7 linked regions of the Homo sapiens genome follow. The protein of the gene in region 5 interacts with the protein of the main gene of each other region in a pairwise test. Each region holds a gene or a part of one and is shown on either strand. Other genes may lie near its edges. The genes, in order: ZNF438, PADI6, ATXN7L2, RBM10, ZNF526, BAHD1 and VCX2.

Region 1 (3,500 bases), on a different chromosome or scaffold from region 5:
CCAATTGAGAGCAATCATTGAAGTTGATCGTCTTACAGCTAAGTGAGAAGCTGCCAAAGAACTCAACATTGACCATTCTACGGTCGTTTGGCATTTGAAGCAAATTGGAAAGTTGAAAAAGCTCAATAAATGGGTGCCTCAGGACCTGAAGGAAAATTTTTTAAAATTGTCATTTTGAAGTGCCATCTTATACTACACAACAATAATGAACCATTTCTCAATCGGATTGTGACGTGTGACAAAAAGTGGATTTTATACGACAACTGGCAACGACCAGCTCAGTGGCTGGACCCAGAAGCTCCAAAGCACTTCCCAAAACCAAACTTGCACCAAAAAAAGGTCATAGTCACTGTTTGGTGGCCTGCTGCCGCTCTGATCCACTACAGCTTTCTTCCTTTTTTTTTTCTTTTTTTTGAGACGGAGTCTCACTCTGTCACCCAGGCTGGAATGCAGTGGTACAATCTCAACTCACTGCAACCTCTGCCTCCGAGGTTCAAGCAATTCTCCTGCCTCAGCCTCTCAAGTAGCTGGAACTACAGGTGCACACCACCATGCCTGGCCAATTTTGTATTTTTAGTAGAGACAGGGTTTCGCAATGTTGGCCAGGCTGGTCTCGAACTCCTGACCTCAGGTGATCCACCCACCTCGGCCTCCCAAAGTGCTGGGATTACAGGCGTGAGCCACCACACCTGGCCCACTACAGCTTTCTGAATCCTGGTGAAACCATTACATCTGAGAAGTACACTCAGCAAATCAATGAGATGCACTGAAAACTGCAACACCTGCAGCCAGCGTTGGTCAACAGAAAGGGCCCAATTCTTCTTCATGACAATGCCCAACCGCACGACACACAACAAACGCTTCGAAAGCTGAATGCATTGAGCTATGAAGTTTGCCTCATCCGCCATATTCACCTGACCTCTTGTCAACCACCACTTCTTCAAGCATCTCGACAACTATTTGAAAGGAAAATGCTTCCAAAACCAGCAGGTTTTTGGAAAGCAGAAAATGCTTTCCAAATCCCAAAGCATGAATTTTTAAGCTACAGGAATGAACAAACTTATTTCTCATTGGCAAAAATGTGTTGATTATAATGCTTCCTGCTCTGATTAATAAAGACGTGTCTGAGCCGACTTATAATGATTTAAAATTCACGGTCCAAAACCGCAATTACTTTTGCACCAACCTAATACTTTATATAAATGGTACTATGATCTAATAATTATAGTAACATGATTTGCAAATACTAAAATATTTTGCTTGCCTTGTTCTATAAAATATATGTAATATAATCACTAATCTTTCATAATGTTGATCAGAATACTTTCCAAGTAACATTCAAAAAGTAATCACTTCTAGATGTATCTCTAATAACAGCAAAAACAACAGACTTCTAGATCTATAATTCGGCATCTATCAAGACTAATTGTGGCAGGCACATAATATAACACACTCCCAAAAGAGAAAAAAAATAGACATAACCTTCACCATAGACAGCACAGCCTTCACCATAATTTTTAAAGCATTAATATATTTCCACAAATAATATATTACCTCTTGAACTACATATAAAAATAATCCTTGAGGCAGCCTGGGTTCCAAATATATTGTCCTGAAATTGATAGACAGAAAACAAGTGATATTTGTACATCCATTTTTCTTTTAAGTTTCAGAAGAAAAGCAAAATCAAAAGTATGTTATATTAGCGCCATAGCTAACATCAACATGTTTGACATAAAAAGTACGTATTCTTCAACTTCAAGAAAGGAAAAGATTGTTCTTTGGCTCTAGTCCTAAGCTGGAAACAAGTAACCACAAAACCAGTTTTAAATCTACCCCAGTCAATCCATCCTTAAAGTCTACTCAACCTTTCCACTTAAGCACTTTGCCAACAAAGTAAGCCAATCAGCAACTGCCCCGCTTCAGTACCTTTGCTCCTCAAAGCCGGTCAGTCTCTAAACTCTAAGTTTAAAGCTGGCTAATCCTTAAATTTTTGCACTTTTCAAAATCAGCCAATCTCAAACTCTGTGCTTCCTCAAAACCCTACATAAAAACGTCTCTGCCTGTTTAAAGGACTGTCTTCTGCAAGCACGGTTCTCCCCTACCCAGCAAGTATGGTTTACCAAAACTCAGGTAAGTTTCTACTTAAGTCAAATTAGAATAGGCTTACAAACACTGAATTACCAATGATTCAAGTGGCAACATGAGTTTCAAGAAACCTAATTAAGTTAGGCAAAGATTCTGTGAATTTATCCAGAAATTGTCAGATTTATTTATTGGAGAATATCTGAAGACACAGAATAGCTCAGTGGAAACAGCCAAACTACATTATGAGTTGGGTGGCACTGAATAGGTTATTTAATATCTCTAAACCAACTTCTTTTTCTATAAAATGAGAGTAATAACTCTATTTCACAGTATTGTCAAGAAGATTAAATGGGATAACAATAACTGGTAACTTTAAAAGATTCCTAGGTACGGCCGAGCGCAGTGGCTTACGCCTGTAATCCTAGCACTTCGGGAGGTGAAGGCGGGCGGATCACGAGGTCAGGAGATCGAGACCATCCTGGCTAACACGGTGAAAACCCGCCTCTACTAAAAAAATACAAAAAATTAGCCGGGCTTGGTGGCGGGTGCCTGCAGTCCTAGCTACTAGGGAGGCTGAGGCAAGAGAATGGCGTGAACCCGGGAGGCGGAGCTTGCAGTGAGCCAAGATCGCGCCACTGCGCTCCAGCCTGAGCGACAGAGCGAGACTCTGTCTCAAAAAAAAAAAAAGATTCCTAGGTATAAAGTTCTAGATTTGCTTTCATCACTAACTTATTAACACATATGGAAAGTCATTTAACCTAAGTCTGTTTCTTCATTGGTCTAATAGTGAGGATAATGCATGCCCTACACATTTTATGGGCTGTTTGTAACAATCAAAAATGAAAATTAATGTGAAAAGGATTTTGACAGATATAAACCATGAAACTGTGAAATAGCTAATTTAACATATACAACAATAAAGGGAATTCACACTAGGAAACCTGTTACAATCCAGGATTATATAAAGTCCAGATTAAATTAATTTTAGTAAGAAAAATATTCATAGCCAAAAACAAATACAAAACCACTAGACACACTAGCAACCAAAAAAATTCAAGGCTACTATTATTAGCTCCAAGAATTATTTCCCATTCAGTAAATGAACCAAATTAGCTCAGCTATCCAACAAACTAAAAGCAGTACAACACAATCCTTTGTCCAAGTCAGGCATTTGCCACTTAAAACTACCACCTCCATTTCTAAAGCAAAAAAATAAAAAAATAAAAAAGGAGGAACAGAAGGAAGGAGGGAGTGAAGGAAGAAAAGATATTACAGAATTTCTCAACATCAGGAGTACTGACATTTTGAACTGGATAATTTTCTGTTGTTGAGAAGTTGTCTTGTACATTGTGGGACATTCAGTGACATGCTATAATGGCCTCAATCCACTAGATGCTAGGAGTAATGTCCCC
Region 2 (3,500 bases), on a different chromosome or scaffold from region 5:
CGTCCCTGGGACAGGTTCTCATCCTGACCTCTCCATCTTCACCCTGCTTTAGAGCACTTGGTACTGTTTAAAACCATGCCGTTTGGCCCTCACATAATGGGGGGACTGTCTCATTCACTGTTCCATGCCCATCTTTGGGAATATTCAGGCATGTATTGGACTGTCTTGGGGCAGGTCCAGACAGCTCAGACAGAAGGGTTTCAACTCTCCTGGTGAGAGGTCCTAGTCATCTTCACCCACCCTGCCCTGCATATAGAAAGAAGAGGGTGCCAGTTATGAGAACCGCCTGGCACAGTCAGCCTGATGGTCTCTCACCTGCACAGGTAAACCTCCAGAGGCACCTGGGTACAGGGAATGAAGACACAGGGAGCCACCCGGAACACCACCGTGTCTTTGTACAGCACAGTCTCTGGAATTGACTGCAACAAGACAAGGTCCTGTTAGCAACCTGCTTCCACATTTACTCGCTCCCCTCTTACCCCAGGGTTCCGGCCGTTCAGTCCGGCCCCCAGCTGGGCCCCACTTGCCTTCTGCAGCTCTCCCCCAGCAAACCTCAAGCTCTGCCCAACTGTGGGAGATGGCTTTTCCCCCACCGGAGCATCCTAGTCTGAGGACCCATCTATTATGGGGACATACCGGGTCTTGAGACTCCTCCACCAGGGACACAGAGTAGGAGATGAGGCCTGAGAATTCGGCAGATGGGAATGCTATAGCTTCAACGTAGAAAGTCTCCTTCAAGTGGTTCCCGAGGAGGGCCAAGGTATAGGCGTGCTGGTCGGGCCCCAGCACCAACTCAAAGGTACTGGAGTTGTCTTCTAGGAGAGAAAGAAGGGATGGACCAGCCACTGAAGTAACCTGGTGCCGGTCACATTTGATGGTCAAGGTACCAGCTCATTCCTCATATCAGATGCAAGGCTGTGAGTTCCAGGAGGGCTGGAGCTGAAATGGCTCAGCCATCCCCGTTTCTAGCATTCAGGTCTTGGTAGACAACCAGATGTTCATACACAAGCAATGGCCAGTTATTCACCAGTATTCCTTGAAGACCTATTACATGCCAGGAGTTGGAGCTCAGGTGATGATGCCTTCAAGGCTCCTGACTGGTGTGAAGCCTCAGGGTAGGTGGTTCTACATTTTGGCCCATGAATCCAACTCCTGCGATAATATCAGAGTCCTAAAGGTGAGAAACTGTCCCAGGCTGGGCTCAGCAGCCTCATCTGAAAAAAATCACTTACTGATGCTAGAAAGGTCAGTGAGAACCATTTATTGGATGGATTATGCCTCCATCAAGTTTTCTGAAGAAACCAAGTGTTCTTATGATTATACATGTTAAGCCTGTCTCCTAGTTTTAGGTCATTAAATACAAAACCATGCACAGAAGAGATCAGAAGGAAGTTGACCACACGTGGTGGTTGTCCGTTTGCTAATTAGATCCTAAAGGTGTTTTTGAGAGGGAGTCTTGCTCTGTCGCCCAGGCTGGAGTGTAGTGGCGTGATCTCAGCTCACTGTAAGCTTTGCCTCCTGGATTCTGGCCATTCTGCCTCAGCTTCCTGAGTAGCTGGAACTGCAGGCACCTACCACCACACGCCTGGCTAATTTTTTGTATTTTTAGTAGAGACGGGATTTCACCGTCTCGTTAGACAGGATGGTCTTGATCTCCTGACCTCGTGATCTGCCTACCTCGGACCTCCCAAAGTGCTGGGATTACAGGTGTGAGCTACCACGCCTGGCCCCCCCCCCTCCTTTTCTTTTTTGAGGTGGAGTCCTGCTCTGTTGAGCAGGCTAGAGTGTAGCGGCACTATCTCGGCTCACTTCAACCTCCATCTCCTGGGTTCAAGCAATTCTTGTACCTCAGCTTCCTGAGTAGCTAGGACTATAGGTGTGCACCACCATGCCCGGCTAGTTTTTTGTATTTTTAGTAGAGATGGGGTTTTACCACATTGCCCAGGCCAGTCTCCAACTCCTGAGCTCAGGCAATCCATCTGCCTCAGCCTCCCAAAGTGCTAGGATTACAGTCGTGAGCCACTGTGCCCAGCCCAAGTCCATTCATTTTCTAGGTCAGAAATGACCCTGACTTCTCCCACCTGGGTCACTCGAACTTCCTCTTTCCTGGCCTGTCCTCTATCTGTGCCCGATGTGGCAGCTGTAGGCCTGATGGCTGTTCCTGCTCAAGATTCCAGGTGACTTATTTCAGGGGATCCTAAGCTAGATTTACCTTGGCCACTAGAACCCCAAGAGATCCAGGAACTGTAGCATCCTCAGACCTTCTGCACGGCACTGCCAGCTGCCTCCATCTCCAGCTCCTCCAACGTGCCAGCAGATGGCTGCAGCTGCGGCCGTGGCTGCCCCTGGTTAGGCACTGCCCTGGGTCCTCGGCCTCTTGCTCTGGGTTAGAGCCCCAGCAGCCCTCCCGATGGACTCTGCAGTTCTGCAGCAGCCCCTCCTTGGAGGCCCTGGGGATGCTGGTTACAGGCCCAGCCTCAGTCCTGCTGCTGGCTGTGAGGGAACTGGGCCCACCGGGACCACTCCTGTGCTAGTTCCTGCTTCTCATCTACCTAGATGCTTCACCAGCCCTGAGCCAGGCCTCATGGGGCAAGACCAGACAAGGCAGTCTTCCCCCAGGAACCCCTGCAACTTCCCAGTGCAGACACAGCCCTCTTGACCTGCGATAGCATCAGCAGGCCCACGGCATGCAGCCCAAGAGGTGCCACACACCTAGGGCCTGCTCCTGTTCTGGGGACCTGGGCTCCCTGTGGCCATTCCACCCAAGGGTGATTCACCACCAGGCAGTGAGGGCGAGAGGGTCACAGTCTGTTTGCCACAATCCCCTACTGGCTGGCTCTCCTGTGGTTGACCTTCTGGGGGCCCCTCTCACAGATAGTTTGTTGTGAAGCATAGCTAACATTTCACTGTGGGCTATCTTTGCTAGGAGCTGTGGTAGGTGTTTCAGGCTCATGGGCTCACATCCTCAGGACCCTTTGAAGCAGGCATTTGTTGTCCCCATTAAACAGAAGCATGGGGGAGGCCAGAAGCCCTGCGACCCAAGTACACACAATAGCTGCCTCTACCTGGAAGGCCCTCCCTGCCCTCAGTCCTCACAGAGCTGCCCAGGAGGCCTTAGCTACCTCAAACTCTCCCTACCCACCCTGGGGGCATATTAAAGGGCTCCCTCCAGCCTCTGCTGGGTCCTCGACTGTCTGTCCATCTGTCGTAGCAGGCTCTGAGAGCAGGTAACATGGTTTATTCTTCCAGAGCTGGATCCTCAGGGCACAGAGCAAATACTGATGATTTGAGCTGAGCTTTTTCCTACCTGCCATGTACTGCTGGACTTACAGGAAGGTGGGTACCCTTCTTGGTTCTTCACTGGCACTTCTCGGCCATTTCTCTATTCCTCAAGAATCCCAGTTCCTGTGAAGTGCTGGCCATCAGATAATGCCAGCTACCCCTTTCTTTTGGGGACGACGATGTCATCCTCTCCATCCTTCGTGGATTGTTCTAGCATA
Region 3 (3,165 bases), on a different chromosome or scaffold from region 5:
CAGATGTCCCCTCCTCCTCACTCTCTTCGCTGGAGGCCTGGGTCCCACCCCGGGGCATGGGGAAGGGGAACAGGCCTGGGTCCCCATCACCACCACAGGGGCCTTCATCATCCAATTCACTCTCGGAGGAGGCCCGGGACCTGGAAGGGCCAAAAGGGATGCCAGGGGAATGTGACTGTTGTGGGGTCAGAGTAGGGGCATCCTTGAACCTGCCGAGCTCAAAGAGCAGGGCACCAGGGCAGACACCCTGCAGGGCAATCAGAAGAGGACAGAGGGAAGGGAAGGACAGGAGGGAACGACACAGCTCACAGAGTAAGAGACAGAGAGACTGCTCCCAAGGGATTCTCTCCCCAGCCCCTTCACCTCCCAGCCCCTTCCTCCTCAGGGGATAATCTGCTGCAGATCCGCCTCCTCCAGAAAATCTTCACAGTTAAAACTGTACCCAGCTCTGGTCAGCCCAGTCAACTCGCTCAACCCCCTTCTTGCATCACATATTCCTGTGAGCCTGTCTGTGAGCTGAGCCTGTGTTTCGTGTCTGCCCCTTGTGTGACAGGCAGAGATGCATGTGTGTCTCCTTCAGCAAGTCAGGCTCTCCCTGGGGTCCGGCATAGCCTCTGCACGCGAAGGGGCCAGTGAGTGAATACACATAGGGCTGCCTTGCCCAGGAGTGTGACCCTTTCAGCTCCCCAGTGACAAGTTTCGGTCTGTTGGAGGCAGCTGGGAAAATGTTCATATCCTGAGTGTTGGATCTGGCACACTGCCGAGAGGCTGGGGTGCTGTGGTATGCCTGGTTGGAAACAGGGGAGTCTCCTGCTTCCACACCACTGTCAGGAGCCCCAGGAATACCCCCACACTCAGGGCTGAGGGAGTGCCTCTTCCAGGACACTCCCTGAGCCTGTTTCCAGGGGCCCCTGATGGCTTAGGGGCCAAGTACCCCCAGGTGAGGTAGGGGTTGGATTCTAGACGTACCTGGGCAGTGCACAGTATGGGTAGGTCTGCTTGGCACGAACAGAGAAGGTGCTGCTGGGAGCAGCCACCGCTGCTACAACCTGGACTGAGGAGGGGAGCTCCTGGGAGGGGCGCTCGAGAACTTGCTCCTTGCGCCCTGGGCTCTTCTCCTTGGGAGACTCCCCTTTGCGGGAGTTGGCCTTCAGCTCTGCCACCAGCACGTCAAAGTCCTTGGCCCGGCCCTGGACTTCCCGGCGCTGGTGTACTGAGTGGATCTAGAATACAGCAGAGTGGAGAGCTGGGGAGTAGGTATGAACTGAGAAGGGGTGAGGGACGGCAGGGTGCTTTGGCCCGGGCAAGTTGGGGGGCAGGGAGAGAGGTGGGCATATTTGCAGCTGTGTTCATGTGTCTTTGTTTCATTCCCCCATGGGGCCAAAACCCTCCTTTGGGATGGGGGAATCTGGAAACTCCCTCCTTCCCACTGTTCCCACCTTCTGCCCAGGAGGGGCATACCCATCTCCCCTTCCCTTGGGTGGGCCTAACTGCCCTCCCTTAAGCTGGACCTTCAGTAACATCGACATTCCTCTCTTTGCCCAGGGAAGGAGTGGGCAAGCCCTGTGCTGTCCTCCCTCACCGTGCAGTGGGAAGGGGGTTACCTTGCAGGTCAACAGGCGGGTACAGATCTTTTTGGTCTCTGGATTTATTACCCCACACTGCCTGTTGAGGTCGCACTCCTTCCCTGTGGGGAAAGCACTTCCAATGAACCTCAAGACCATTTCCAGGAGTTTACAGGAGGATTTGGCCGCTTCCTGCCAAGGGCCTGAGAACTGGTACTAAGGCAGAAGAGACTCCAGCCCTCAGCCTGGGGCTGTACCTTCCAGATAAACTTCTGGGCATCAACATCTCCTTGCTGGGTGTGAGAACCATCCCTATCCCAATTTCAGGTGCGCCTTTTGGGACTTCAAGCCCAAAGCAGGGCAACACACATCAAGAAACAAAAGCAGCCATGGGCATCTGGGAGGCCAGAGAAGCCAGCTGTGAGATGTGTCTGGCTGGCGCCCTGGATCTAGGTGAGAAAAGAGTGAGAAAGAACTTCACCTCCTGGGCATGGGCTCCCTCAGCCTTGATCAGGAGACACAGGATGGAGAGAAGCTTCCCAGGAAGCAAGCAGGTCAAGAGGTGACGGGGCTCCTATACCCTACAACCTGTGATGGCCAGGCCCATAAACCTGACCTCCTCCTCATCCAGCCCAAGGACAAAGCAGCCCAAAGGAGTCCCCACTCTACATTCTGGACCCCCAAGACCACAACTACTCACGAGCCATCTTCCGGTGGGTTTTAGGGGGCAGCCTGGTCCCACTGGGCTCCTTTTCAGGAGGGCTGCCTTCAGCCCAGTGACTGGACCCCTCACTGGGGATGATCTCGATGTTCTCTCTGCCAGGAGGTTCTTTAGAAGGGGGAGCCATGGGAGGTTTTCCAGGGGAGTCCTTGGTGAGGCCCCCTGGCTGGCTGAGAAAAGCAGAGGGTGGGGCCACCCTGATTCCATGTCCATCAGGCTTCGGGAGACTGGACATCTTCTCCAGATTCACCACAGGCACGAAAAGGCTACACACAGAGAGAGGGGGTTGGCTGAGGGAGGGGAGGGGAGGCGAGGCCTGGGGCCTGGACTCTAGCCCAGAGCCATCTCTTTCCCAGCCCTGGAATTTGGGTGGGCTCCAGCAGGGGTGTGAAACACGGGAAGAGGAGACCCCATCTTCCCTGGAATATATGGAAGGAAGCTGCAGACAGGACGGCTGCCTCCTGCTGTGAGGAGTATGCCTTGACCCAGGGCTGTCTGTATTGATGTCAGCCCATCCATGGGTCAGGGTCAGGGCCAGTCTTAGAAAGTTTCCAGCCTCTCCTTACCAGAGGTTGTCCTTCTGGGTCTTCTCAGGAGGCTGGTGGCCACGGCTCCGGGACCCCTGGCCCTTCTCCCTGGAGGAGGTTTTCGTGGAACCTGGGGCCCTACAAGCTGGGCCCTGCCCATTCACTACATGGCATTTCTGAGAGCTGGCAGGGGCTGGAGGTGGGGGTGGGGCCCGGCCATAAAGCTTGCTGAGGGGCCCATGTCTTCTTTCTGTCACCAGGAGGTGGAAAGAATAATCAAGGTGAGTGGTATCACCACTTCCTTCCCCAACCTAACCATGTCCATAGACTCACATGAGAGAATCTGAGTTTC
Region 4 (3,500 bases), on a different chromosome or scaffold from region 5:
GTGGGGAGAAACCCCCACTCGGCCCTGACACTGCCAGGCCACACCCAGGGCCAGGACTACACAGGCTACACTTGGGGGGTGAGGGGAGACAGGGAGGGGGAGGGAGAGGGGAGAAAAAGAGAAAGAGAGCGCAGGTGCGCTAGTGCTGGAGAAGGGGAAAAAGAAAGAGCCATTTCGAACAGATGGAAGTTTCTGCCATGAGGCCGTCTTCCCATGGATGGCTGGGTCCTGGGCCCATGGCACTAGCCTACCAACCCCGAGGAGACGGCCCCAGGGCTGCCTCTGCCGGGATCCCCCATTCTACCACCTCTGCCCCTTCCTCCCCTGAAACTGCTCTCCAGTGCCCTACACCAGGGATCTGGGCAGGGGTGGGTGACCAGGCAGATCTTTGGGTCTCGGAGGTCCCAAAGCTGCTGAGTTGGGATCCCGTGCCAGGCTTGGGGGACAGGCTCCCCCCAGGGCTGACTGTGCACAGGTCCTTGCCGAGAAGACAGAGCTGCCTGAGGTGGTGCCTCCTGCGAGTGTGGAGATGTGATAGGAAGGGTAGGGGCGGCGAAGTGAGGCCAGGGTGTCGATAAAACTATCATACTCGACGGGAACTTGAGATCAACAGAGCAGTGCTGTCCCCTTGCATGAAAATCAAAGGGCCAAATTCACATGCAGGGATGGGGCTGACAAAATGAGTCTTGCTAGTGACTGTGCCAATAGCTAAGCTCCTCACTGGCAGGACTTCCAGTGGTCCTGAGGGTGGAATGAGGTCCTGGCTCTGGCTAACCCCAGAGAGGGGTGCCCCCCCCACCAGCCCCGGGGGAGTGGGAAGCTAGGTGAAAGAACCCACCCTGGCAGCTCTTTCTCTGAACGCTCAGCTGGGAGAGGTGAAGGGGCAGCACTAGTGCCTGGTGGTAGGAAGGGGCCAGTGGTGAGTGTGGGCTCTGGATGAGAAGCCCAGTGGGGTAGCGAGAGATGGGAAGAGGAGATAGTGAGGGTCAGGAAGGGGAGAGAGGGGGCGGGGGGATGGGACACAGGGCCACAGGGCAGGGAACTGTGTCCATAAGAATCAGGCGATGGGGAGCGCTCGATTACAAAGTAGTATTTGTTTGGGGGGGGGTTCAAGTGCGGCAAAGCAACCTGATTGGCTTCCATCCATCGTGTAGCGTCCTGCAAGTGACTAAACTCGACGAAGGCGAAGCCCCGGCTCTGACCTGGAGACAGCATTCAGATACAGACGCAGTGGGTTAGTCAACAGCTTTGGACACACGGCGTTCCCGGGGGCGGGACCCGAGGGGAGAGGACGGGGGGCAGAGAGGGAAAGGGGAAGAGGAAAAAGGAAGAAAGAGAAAGAGGCAATCAGAGAGAGAAAGACTAGCGGGCGTGGGGGGCAAGGTAGATGGCCAGGTGGGGCAGGGAAGGTGGAGGGAGAAAAACAGAGGCCAGAGGTCGGTAGGGGGAGAGACACACACACCAACTGGGAAGAGAGAGATGGGGCTCGGGCAGACCTGCCCAGCCAGCCTGGGGTGACAGAGACGGAGAGAAGCAGCTGGGAGGGAAAGAATACGAGAGATCTGCCTCCAAAGAAGGAGGGAGGGGATGGTGGGCAGGCTGCTGGCTCCACACAAGCCACAATACGTAACTCCAGGGCGGGCCCAGCTCAAGGCCAGGGGTGCCCAGGAGGGGTCCTGTAACAGGTGTTGAATCACAGGAGCAAAAGAGAAGCTGGGCCAGGCTGCTCTGCGAGGCTAGGAAGGCTCTTGGCCCATTGGAAACCAGGGGCGGTTAAAGACACGACCTCATCTCAGCCTCACCGCAGCGCAGGGGAGGCGGGCCTCGCTAGGGAGCCACCTCAGGGCCACAGGGTGGAGACTACAGCCACAAACAGTCCAGGTTCCCCTGGACAAAAGGAGAATGGTGGCCAGGATTGGCCAGGAGGACCTTAGAGGTAAGAATCAATGGGTGCCTGGGAGAAGCGCCCAGGGCCATTGAGAAGGCCGCACCTGGAACACCTCCTTGTGGAGAGAGAGACCCAGAAGCTGTCCGTGTGTGGTGTAGTTGGGGTGATGCAGAGCAAGACCTACATGCAACCAAGATTCCAGGCTTGGGAAAGGGATTCAGGGTTGAGGCCTCAGGATAGCATGTCCTTTAGAGGCAGATACATGGGGAGGGCTTGGATGAGAGGGGCTTGGGGGGGCATGCTTAATGTTCAAAAGAATAACCGTTAGGATGCATAGGAGGATGGAATGAATAATATAGTTGGGGGGGGCAGAGAGAGAGAAAGAGAGAGAGGGAGAAAGAGAGAGAGAGAGAGAGAGAGAGAGAGAGAGAGAGAGAGAGAGATGGAGGTGTGGGGAGGAGAGACTGAGAGATGGAGAGAGAAGCCCAGGCAGAGTGAGGCCCCACTGTGCCTGCCTTGGGGAGCCTGGGCAGAGGTCCTGTAGAGACAACTCCCCCCACCACCACCCTGCTAACCTCAGGCCAGCTCCAAGCAGCCTGCAAGAGGGAGGGAGGGAGGGAACAGGCGAGGCCAGGAAGTCCTGGCTGTTCCTTGGGATGTGTCCTTGGATAAGAGCCATCCCCTGCTTCCCCCTTGGGACACACATGTGGGACCACCACGTCAGAGCTACTTTCTGGTCAGAGGCTGTTACCAAAAAATGTGGGGGAAAGTGAGGGGCAGAGGAAGGAGAAGAAAGGAGAGGGAAGGGAGTGTATGGGAGGGGGTTACCATCTCAGATACTCAGAGTCCCAGAGAGGAGGTGCCTGGGAGCCTGGCCCTGGCCCTGACCCCAGGGAGCACCCAGCTCAGCTCAGAGCTGCACCCCTGCCCCGACAGCCCCATTGAAGAGGCTTTTGGCTGGAGCTGTGAGGAGAGTGTGGGGAGTGGGAGAGAAGAGAGGGCACCCCCCACGCTGCCCATTCCCAGCTGTGGCAGGAAGGTGGTGGAGGGAGTGGGGGAGAAGGCAGAGGCAGGAGGGAGATTCGGAGGCTGAGGCTGGCCACTTGAAGGGGAGGGCACTAGAACAAAAGCTCACCTGAAGATTTGTTCCGCATCAGCCGAACCTCCCGTGCTTGCACGCCGTGCGACTGCAGCTGGCCACGGATCTATACGGGGAGATACAGAGTAGGGCAGGCTCAGCACAATGGGGCCGCTGGGTACCTGAGGCTGGCTGGAGGCCTCTGGATCCCGAGGGGTCATCGGTGATGTGCACACAGTCTCCTCCGCCTCTTTCGCAGCTTTTCCCTGAGTGACAACAGCCCCAGGCCCACACCAGTTCACAGTCTTGACTTTCAGCCCCAGACTTGCAGAAAGTGAATCAAATGAAGAAATGGGCACAGAGCAAGGTAAAGCATGGCAGCAGGACGACCCTCAGGGGCACAGAGAACAAGAGAGCAAGTGAGCCAGCCACTTAAGAACGGTGGGCAGGGTGATCTGACAAAGGGCTCGCTGGCAGCCACGAAGTAAGGAAACCTGGGATGCAATTCTTGCCCTTGGCAAGGGGATAACCCGC
Region 5 (2,695 bases):
GTCTCTACTAAAATACAAAAATTAGCTGGGTGCAGTGGTGGGGGCCTGTAATCCCAGCTATTAGGGAGACTGAGGCAGGAGAATCGCTTGAGCCTGGAAGGTGGAGGTTGCAGTGAGCTGAGACTGCACCACTGTGCTCCAGCCTGGGCAACAGAGCAAGACTCCATCTCAATCAATCAATCAATCAATGGAGAGAAAGACTATTATCCTAGGTAACCTCTGAAAAAGGTGGGAATCTTCCTGCTCTCAAGACCTTTGATGTTTCGAAGCCCCTTCAAATCCCAATAGCTCTGACACTGGTTTACTTTTCCTCTAGTTAGAATGAATCTTCCTCTGATCCCCTACCCCTGCACAAGTTTCAGGTCTTAATCACTCAGAATAGTATGGGTTACAAATGTGGGCCGCAGGGGCCTCCCGTACTCAAATCTCACATCTCTGCCTAGCTGTGAAACCTTGGGCAAATCTCTGTCCTTAGTTTTTTTTTCCTTTTTTTTTTTTTTAAGTGACAGGGTCTTGCACTGTTGCCCAGACTGGAGTGCAGTGGTGTGAACACAGCTCACTGCAGCCTCAATCTCCCTCATATCAAGCAATCCTGCCTCCGCCTCAGCCTCCAGAGTAGCTGGGAATACTGGTGTGCACCACCATGCTCGGCCAATCATTTTTATTTTTAATAGAGACAAAGTCTCTCTCTCTTGCCCAGGTCTTGAATTCTTGAGCTCGAGTGATCCTCCTGCCTCAGCCTCCCAAAGCACTCGGATTACAGGCATGTGCCACCAGGCCTGGCTAACTTTTAAGTTTTGTAGAGATGAGGTCTTGCTGTTGCCCAGGCTGGTCTCGAACTCCTGGCCTTAAGTGATCCTCCTGCCTCAGTCTCCCAAAGCACTGGGATTGCAAGCGTGAGCCACCGCACCTGGCCAGTTTATTTTTATTTTTATTTTCTTTTGAGAGGGAGTCTCACTCTGTCGCCCAGGCTGGAGTGCAGTGGCGCGATCTCGGCTCACTGCAAGCTCCGCCTCCCGGGTTCACGCCATTCTCCTGCCTCAGCCTCCTGAGTAGCTGGCCACCACAGGCGCCCGCCACCACTCCTGGCTAATTTTTTGTATTTTTAGTAGAGACGGGGTTTCACCGTGTTAGCCAGGATGGTCTCGATCTCCTGACCTCGTGATCTGCCCGCCTCGGCCTCCCAAAGTGCTGGGATTACAGGCGTGAGCCACCACGCCCAGCCACCAGTTTTAAAAATCTATACAACAGGGATAATATGAAATCTATGTCACAAGCCTGTTGGGATCATAGTACACATACAGTGGTAAGTGTGGTGCTTGCCTCAGGTAGGCAGTCAGATGAATAACTGGATGGTCTCCAAATACACCAAGAGCTCACCCTCTTGCAGTGCTGTCTGCCTGGAATGTTCTTTTCCTCTTTCACTGCCAGATTCCTACTTTTCCTTCAGGGACTACCTTCTCTAGGAAGTCCTTAACTCCTGATCTCCCACCATGGAGGTCTGTTTCCTGGGATCCCACTGTCCCTGCACATCCCCATCACAGCCCAGAGAAGCCTTAGGCCTGACTCATCTCTGCCCCCAGCATCACCCAGTATGGGAGAAGGGAGGCTTTAGGACACACAGGCTGAATGAATCAATGAGACACACTCAGAGAGCAAGCTATCTGTACTTGTGCGTTTCTCCTACCAGATTGTGCATGCCTCCTGTGGGCAGAGCCTGTGCTGACTTGCTCCTGGGTCTCCAGCATCACCCAGTCTGGAGCTGAGGACCTGGGTACCTACAGATTTCCTTCCACACTGTCAGAATTGAGATGAAGGAAGCCCAGAGAAATCAAGTACCCTCCACCAGGCAGAGCAAAGTCCTGGGTGCCCAAAATCCAGGGAAGGCAAGGGCTGGGGGTACAAGCAGAGGATCTGAAGAGGTATATGAGAGTGGCCAGCACAGACCTGGCATAAGCTTGGTGCTCAGTGAAGGTTACCTGATGTTGCTGGGCACCAGGGTGATGCAGTGCAAAGGGCCTTGGCCAACCCACTTTGCAGCATAGCTGGGTGACCTGGTACAGATCACATCGCATTTCAGAGCTTCAGTTTCCCCTCAGGCAGAGAAAGATGACAAGAGAAGCCTGGAAGGGTTGTTCTGGGGAGTCAGTGGGTAAAAAGAGGCCAGGGTGGATCCTGGCACATGGTGGGTACCAGACCAGTTTGTCAGAGGAGGTCCTCTCTCCCCAGAGGTACCCACACTGGCTGTTGCAACCAAACCCTTTTGTTGTTGCTTTTCAGCTGCGTCACACGAAGGCCGTGTCCAACTGCAAGAGCCCGCCTGCTTCACTGGCCCCCAGTGCAGCCTGGCACAGCTGCAGGGTGTCCTCAAGCGCCAGTGGCTGGGATGTCTCAATGATGGCGATGGTCTCCCCCAGCTCTGTGCACATGATAGTCTGTTGAGGCTCTGGAGGTGGGGGTGGGGCAGGAGATGGTGATCTGGGAGGCTGTAGCGTCAAAGTCCGAGCTCGGGCATGGACCCGCTGATGCAGTCGCAAGCCCGCCATGGCGCGGAACCAGCGGCCACAAGTCCCGCAGTAGTAGGGACTCTTGTTGTAGAGACCAGTGATGGGGAGGCGGGGGGCGCGGGCAAAGGCGACTGGCCGCAAGTGCAACCGCCGGTGCTGCTGCAGGTTGGAGCTCTGTGTGAAGCGCT
Region 6 (3,500 bases), on a different chromosome or scaffold from region 5:
ACAGCTTGGTGGAGAGCCTATGGGGTGTTAGGAGGAGTCTTTCCTCCCCTCCCCTCCCCTACTACAGAAAATACCAAAAGTGACCAGGTATGCAGCTCCACCTCACCTTTCCTGTTTCCAGGGGAACACATCCACTTGCTCCCATTGGCACCTGCTACCTCAAGGGTTCCCTTTCTGTTCCTCTTTTTAAGACAAAGGTTATTATTCCCTTTGAAACATGAATTGGGGCAGTGTTGGGAAAAGAGAATAAATCCTGGGCCCTTTCCCAGGTTCTCTGGAGTCCAAAGTGACAAGCGCAGGGATTTGACTACAGCCCATGGCTGCCCTCCCCCTACCACGTCTTAGTGCCATAACCTTTCCCTCTGTCTCTCCTGCCCTCCCTGACCCATCTGCCAGGCAGCTCACCTCGTGCATGCTGGGACTGCGGCCTCCCTGTAAGTGCTCAGGTCTGTAATACCACAGGAGGCTCATCATCAGCTCTCCTGGAAGGACAACACAGTGGTTATGGCTTGAACTGGCAACCTGAGTTACTTAGACAGGCAGAGAGGCTGGCTGGCTGCCCTGGAGGTTCATCCAACCTCAATCCTGCAGGCTCCGGCAACCCATGTCCCCTGCCCCAGGCCAAGCATTCAGAGGCCTGGAATGCTGTTAGGCATGGAGGGAGAAGGGGGAGAAGGCACTGACAGGTGAGGTGGGGGGACAGGTGCCCAGGCTCTGCTGGCTGGAAAGGTTAATGAGCTGATCCAACCCAAGCCACAAGGTCACCCACAGCCCTCGGCAGCAGAGAGACCCCAGCCGAGTGGAAGGCAGACTCTGTGCCAGGAACACGGGGAGACTCACGCCAGGTCAAACTCCAGGCAGGGGCCAATCTGGGGACTACAGTTCTGCTGAAGGCAGCTGCCCCTTGGGTCCCCAGCCAGAGGGAGAGGTACCTGACTCGGGGTTCTCCCAGAGGGCAGAGATCTTGGCCACATAAGGTGTGGAGGTCTTTCGTGGGCCTGATTTGAGAAGGACGGTGTCCCGGACTCGGATTGTCTCCCCATGCCGCTCTACCGCCTGGTAGCTCTTTCGGATGGCTGGCTCCGGCTCATCCTAGGCAACAAACCAATGACACAAATAGGCTTGCAGAGCCACACTCAGAGTAAGGACAGAGAGAGGGAATGACATCCTTTCCACGATTTCCTCAAGATAGTCAAACCACTACCTTGGTTTTGTCAAACCACTATCCTTTTTTGGATGGGGCTGGGGAATTCTCATGGTTGGAGAAAGGATGAGAAAAGGGAATAGGGGTGGAAAAGTGGCCTGAAGCTTCTGGGGCTGAGCTCTGACCACCATACCCGACAGCTGACTCTCACTCCAAGACCCCCAGTGCTGGGTAAGTGCTCATGCTTCCTAATGGAACAAGTCTCGGTCTGAACCCTTAAACCACTGTTATAAGGGGCACAGCCTTTGACAAATTATTTAAAGTATTGCTAAGCCTCAGCTTCCACATCTGTAAAATGGGATTAATTATAGGAAGATGGGATATATACCACATAGGGTAGTGGTGAGGATTAAAGGGCATAATACTTACAAAATGCTTAGCTCAGTTCTGGCATCTAAGAAGTGCTCAATAAATTTTATGTATTTATGTATTTATTTATTTTTAGAGACAGGGTCTCACTCTGTCACCCAGGCTGGAATGCAGTGGTGCAACCATAGTTCACTGCAGCCTCAACCTCCTGGACTCAAGTGATCCTCCTGCCTCAGACTCTCAAGTAGCTGGGACTACAGATGCATGCTACCATGCCTGGCTAATTAAAAAAATTTTTTTTCTGTAGACAGGATCTTGCTATGTCGACCAGGTTGGTCTTGAACTCCTGAGCTCAAACAATCCTCTAGCATCAGCCTCTGAAAGCTCTGGGATTATATGCATGAGCCACCTTGCCCAGCCTCAATAAATTTTAGTTAATATTCTTTTTGTTTTTAATTAATTAATTTTAAAAGCCAGGGTCTCTCTGTCACCCAGACTGGAGTGCAGTGGTGCAATCAGCTCACTGCAGCCTTGAACTCCTGGACCTAAGCAATCCTCCCACTTCAGCCTCCTGGTGCACACCACCATGCCTGGCTAACTAATGTTTTTACTTTGTAGAGATGAGGTCTATATTGCTCAGGCTCGTCTTGAACTCCTGGCCTCATGCGATCTTACCACTTCCACCACCTAAAGTACTGGGATTACAGATGTGAGCCACCGCACTTGGCCTCTTTTCATCATCCGAGATGTTCTCTGTGTCACTAATTTTCTCTGCCCATTCCAACGCCCCCTATATAGACTTATCCAGAAAAGTTCTCCATTGAAAGTCCTCCACTTTACAATCCAGGGTGTAAGGGACAAAGTGAGCAGGGAGGGGAGGGGAAGACACTCACCGAGATGGCAGCCACCAGCTATGACTGTGTGTCTCCTGACCTCCCTGGGGTGTCTGGTACAGGATCAGTAGGGGGCTAGGGAAGCAAGCTGGGTGGGCCAGCATGACTGGTTCCTGGGGTACAAGTAAACTGGAGTCCCTTGTCAGCTCTCAGAGTAGCTAGAACCAGGTGCTTCTAGCACCTACCTCACTGCAGGTCATGTGTCCCCACTGCCTCCCTCCCTCTCGTCATCAGCTAAGAGCTAGCACTTACCAAGACATACACAGCCTTCTCACACGCAGCCCCAACAGGTACCCAGCCATTAGTGCGGCGGCGACGGCGGCGGCGAGGGCGTGGGCGCTGGACACGTGGCTGCTTGGGGTGGCTAGGCCTGCGGGCAGCCTTGCTCCTTGCAGTGTGCCTGCAGCTGGAGCCTGTGCGCAGACCTGACTTAGAACCGCTGGGAGGTTTGGCGCTCTGAGGGCACGCACGGGCTACTGTCTGGGGCTCCGAGGTGGGTGTCTGAAGATGGGGGACGGGCTCTGCTGCAGGTGGCACACTGGGTACAGGGCACCCCAGGAGTGGGTGGGCGGGTGAGGCTGGGTGGCCAGCTTCCGGGAGAGGAAATTCCAACTGGCCCAGGGATCTGCAGCCTTCTAGGAAAGGGAGAGAGTGGTCAGGACAGGACAAGCAGTGACCCCCATCACCCATCTGCTTTCAGAGCCTGCTCCTGTCTTAATTCTAACTGTGCAACCAAAGGCCACTGAGGTGGCCGATGGGATCAGAGGCCTTTTTATGGTGGACTGTCAGAGTGACTCTCTAAGGGGACAGGGGTGTTTCCTGATCTTGGAGATTGGCCATCTCCCCTTTTAGTCTGAAAGAGAGGTGGTTGGAACATCCTTTTTAACTCCGAACTTTTTTTTTTTTTGAGACAGAGTCTCGCTCTGTTGCCCAGGCTAGAGTGCAGTGGTGCTATCTTGGCTCACTGCAACCTCCGCCTCTCGGGTTCAAGCATTTCTCCTGCCTCAGCCTCCTGAGTAGCTGGGATTACAGGTGCCCATCACCACACCCAGCTAATTTTTTTGTATGTTTAGTAGAGATAGGGTTTCACCATG
Region 7 (3,149 bases), on a different chromosome or scaffold from region 5:
CTCCCTCCCCACACACCACCTCTTCCTCCCTCCCTCCCCACACACCACCTCTTCCTCCCTCCCTCCCTCCCCACACACCACCTCTTCCTCCCTCCCTCCCTCCCCACACACCACCTCTTCCTCCCTCCCTCCCTCCCCACACACCACCTCTTCCTCCCTCCCTCCCCACACACCACCTCTTCCTCCCTCCCTCCCTCCCCACACACCACCTCTTCCTCCCTCCCTCCCCACACACCACCTCTTCCTCCCTCCCTCCCTCCCCACACACCACCTCTTCCTCCCTCCCTCCCTCCCTCCCCACACACCACCTCTTCCTCCCTCCCTCCCTCCCCACACACCACCTCTTCCTCCCTCCCTCCCTCCCCACACACCACCTCTTCCTCCCTCCCTCCCTCCCTCCCCACACACCACCTCTTCCTCCCTCCCTCCCTCACCACACACCACCTCTTCCCCCCTCCCTCCCTCCCTCCCCACCATCAGAGAACACGGAGTCACTCAGATCAATTTGCAACACATTCATTTTATTATCTTCAGAATGGCAAGCACCCCGCTGGTGAGATCTCTGAGGTCTGGCGGCTGGGCCTGAACTTAGTCGGTGCTCTCGGAGACAGGGGAAAAGCTGGCCATCCACACAGTCAGTGGTTCTTCCACCTCGCTCTCCTGACTCAGTGGTTCTTCCACCTCGCTCTCCTGACTCAGGGGGTCGTGCTGGGTCCCCTCGCTCACTGGCTCCTCCGGCGGCAGCTCGTGCTGAGGGAGCTCCTGGCTGGGCTGGTCGCTGGGGCCGGGTGCCGCTGGCGCGCTCTCCGCCTCAGGTGCCGTCACGGCCGCCATCTTTGTCGCAGCCCCTTTCTTCCCGCGTCTCCCTCTACGAACTGCTTTTCCCTTCTTGGCCACCTTGGTAGTCTGGAAGGACAACAGGGAGATCACAGAAGGGCTCTGGTTTAGGGACGAGGATGGAGGAGGCTGGGAACAGGGACGTGTCCTCAGAAGCGGTGGGGGCCGGGTTGGGGGGTTCTGCCAAGTGACGACAGGAGAGGCTTCTTGTGAGGAAGGAGGCGAGGGGAAGACGAGGAGGAGCTTGGGAGGGTCACTCACCTTCTTCTTCGGGTCACTGGGGCTCGGCTGAGAGGAGGACTTCCTCTTTCCTGCCTCCGTGGCCTTGGCCGGAGGTCCCGAGGCTCTCGGCTTTGGACTCATCTTCCGCAGCTCAACGTCTCGCAACGGTCGACTAACTCCAGGCTGCCTGGCCTCCCTGTATATACCCCTCTCGCGATCCCAGGACGAGACAATCACGCCCCTGAGCTGTGATTGGTCAACACTCCACTACCCAGCCAATGGTAGCCCTGGGCGGGAAGGAAGGCCTTATACGTCACAAAGCACCATCAGGACATGGCGGATGAAGTCGGGGGCGGGGGGGGGGGGTGACATCTAATGAGGAAGGCAGGGTGCTCTAATTGGAGAAAGGGAGATTTGGGTTAGCACCCCTAAAGATAGTTCCCAAACTGACATGTCACCCCTCCTAAACTCCCCATGTTCAATTTTGGCAGATCACGTGGCACGGGAGGATATTTCCGCCACATGTTTCCCCCGGACCTCCCATTCAGTGGTACATTCTGTTCCTCCACACCTGCCATCATTACCCAGTTTCTGTATGACCTATCTAAAATCCCTCCATGCTAACTGGGATGGATGGAGGGCTATACGAAGACGTCAATCATCCCTCTCTCCTACAAATTCCTCTGCTACACCTTGAGGATCATTCACTTCTTGGATGCCATGAAACAACTTTTCCATCTCACATACTTCTCCCAGCATCCACATAGTGCCTCACAATTTTTCATTCTCATGGTTTAAAGCACTGGCTTCCAGAGGTCAAGATCAGCAAACACACTCGCTCAGCTGGGTATCGGTATCAGGCTGGGTTTCGGTATCAGGCTGGGTTCCTCAGAGAAGGAGAAACTAAACCAACAGGATATTGTGTGTGTGTGTGTGTGTGTGTAATATTATATATCATAAATATATATTTACTATCATGTAGTATTTATGAATTATATATATGATACAGTTTATTCTAAGTAATTGGCTCACACATTGACTCAATGTGGGGGTCTAGGAAGCTGAAATATATAGGGCAAGTGAGCAGGCTGGAAACTAAAAGCTTCTGCACAGCCAACAGTCAACAAAATGAAAAGGCAGGCTATGGTTTGGGAGAAGCTATTTGCGAACCATGTATCTAATAATGAGTTAATATCCAAAATATATAAAGAACTCACACAGCTCAATAGCAAATAAATAAATAGTCTGGTTAACAAATAGGCAAAGGACTTGAATAGGCATTTCTAGAAGGAAAACACACAACTGGCCAACAGGTATATGAAAATGTGCTCAACATCGTTAATAATCAGAGAATGCAAATGAAAACCACAATGAACTATCACCTCACTGTTACACGCTGTTGACAGACGTGTAATTGGTACAGCCGTTATAAAAAACAGTGTAATGGTTCCTTGGAAAATCAAAATAGATCTACCATGTGACCCAGCAGTTCATCTGTTAAGTATGTACCACCCCCCAAAAATGAAGTCCACATCTCATATAGATATCTCCAGTACTAACTAATTGTAACTCATTAATTACACAGGAAATTAGAGTTTCTATTTGAAAAGAATGTTTTTTTCACCATTCTGGTATCAAATATTTATTCTAGTCATCTCTTCTTATTTCTTGCTTTGTAATAACCTAGGTACTCACTACCCATTGACAGAACCAACTTATTATTCCAACAAGAAATGAGAAATACTGAGGAGAATGCAATGTGATACTTCTGTCTTCAACCAGTTATTCCAGTTTTATGGAGGATTCTGTATTTAACTCTTACTCAGGTAACTCTAGTTACCAAATCCATAGTACCTAGTCAACAATCCTAAAAAAGTAAGAATACAGAATTGACTCGAATGGTTACTAAACTTTCTATGTTCAACCAGTTTTCCTAGTAATTGCTAGTTGTTTGTTCAACTAGTACTGAGAAGAATTTGTTTATTCCAGGTACTGGCTTCATGTAGTTATCTCTAGTTAATTACTCACTTGGATAAAGTAGATATCTACTATATTAGGTAATATTTCTAACATGAGGTTGGAATTTTGCA

What was found.
Region 1: the proteins of ZNF526 (region 5) and ZNF438 interact in binary tests that used the Homo sapiens proteins (3 or more experiments, as listed by UniProt).
Region 2: the proteins of ZNF526 (region 5) and PADI6 interact in binary tests that used the Homo sapiens proteins (3 or more experiments, as listed by UniProt).
Region 3: the proteins of ZNF526 (region 5) and ATXN7L2 interact in a two-hybrid assay, tested with the Homo sapiens proteins (one large-scale study listed by BioGRID).
Region 4: the proteins of ZNF526 (region 5) and RBM10 interact in binary tests that used the Homo sapiens proteins (3 or more experiments, as listed by UniProt).
Region 6: the proteins of ZNF526 (region 5) and BAHD1 interact in binary tests that used the Homo sapiens proteins (3 or more experiments, as listed by UniProt).
Region 7: the proteins of ZNF526 (region 5) and VCX2 interact in a two-hybrid assay, tested with the Homo sapiens proteins (one large-scale study listed by BioGRID).

Annotation. Positions count from the first base shown.
Region 1 is NC_000010.11:31,021,866-31,025,365, forward strand, and holds part of ZNF438 (zinc finger protein 438), read right to left. Parts: intron 2,539-3,500; exon of another isoform or gene 1,555-2,538; intron 1-1,554. UniProt on the Homo sapiens protein: Isoform 1 acts as a transcriptional repressor.
Region 2 is NC_000001.11:17,385,696-17,389,195, reverse strand, and holds part of PADI6 (inactive protein-arginine deiminase type-6), read right to left. Parts: intron 816-3,500; coding exon 637-815; intron 420-636; coding exon 316-419; intron 1-315. UniProt on the Homo sapiens protein: Structural constituent of cytoplasmic lattices, which plays a key role in early embryonic development. Cytoplasmic lattices consist in fibrous structures found in the cytoplasm of oocytes and preimplantation embryos.
Region 3 is NC_000001.11:109,486,905-109,490,069, reverse strand, and holds part of ATXN7L2 (ataxin-7-like protein 2), read right to left. Parts: intron 3,064-3,165; coding exon 2,853-3,063; intron 2,553-2,852; coding exon 2,266-2,552; intron 1,688-2,265; coding exon 1,605-1,687; intron 1,224-1,604; coding exon 970-1,223; intron 788-969; coding exon of another isoform or gene 730-787; exon of another isoform or gene 141-729; coding exon 1-140.
Region 4 is NC_000023.11:47,172,721-47,176,220, reverse strand, and holds part of RBM10 (RNA-binding protein 10), read right to left. Parts: intron 3,094-3,500; coding exon 3,024-3,093; intron 1,203-3,023; coding exon 1,129-1,202; intron 1-1,128. UniProt on the Homo sapiens protein: Binds to ssRNA containing the consensus sequence 5'-AGGUAA-3'. May be involved in post-transcriptional processing, most probably in mRNA splicing. Binds to RNA homopolymers, with a preference for poly(G) and poly(U) and little for poly(A).
Region 5 is NC_000019.10:42,226,007-42,228,701, reverse strand, and holds the end of ZNF526 (zinc finger protein 526), read right to left. Parts: coding exon 2,286-2,695; 3' UTR 501-2,285; downstream 1-500. UniProt on the Homo sapiens protein: May be involved in transcriptional regulation.
Region 6 is NC_000015.10:40,461,453-40,464,952, reverse strand, and holds part of BAHD1 (bromo adjacent homology domain-containing 1 protein), read right to left. Parts: intron 3,042-3,500; coding exon 2,659-3,041; intron 1,093-2,658; coding exon 933-1,092; intron 483-932; coding exon 406-482; intron 1-405.
Region 7 is NC_000023.11:8,169,444-8,172,592, forward strand, and holds VCX2 (variable charge X-linked protein 2), read right to left. Parts: upstream 1,825-3,149; 5' UTR 1,664-1,824; intron 1,347-1,663; 5' UTR 1,201-1,346; coding exon 1,099-1,200; intron 907-1,098; coding exon 589-906; 3' UTR 501-588; downstream 1-500.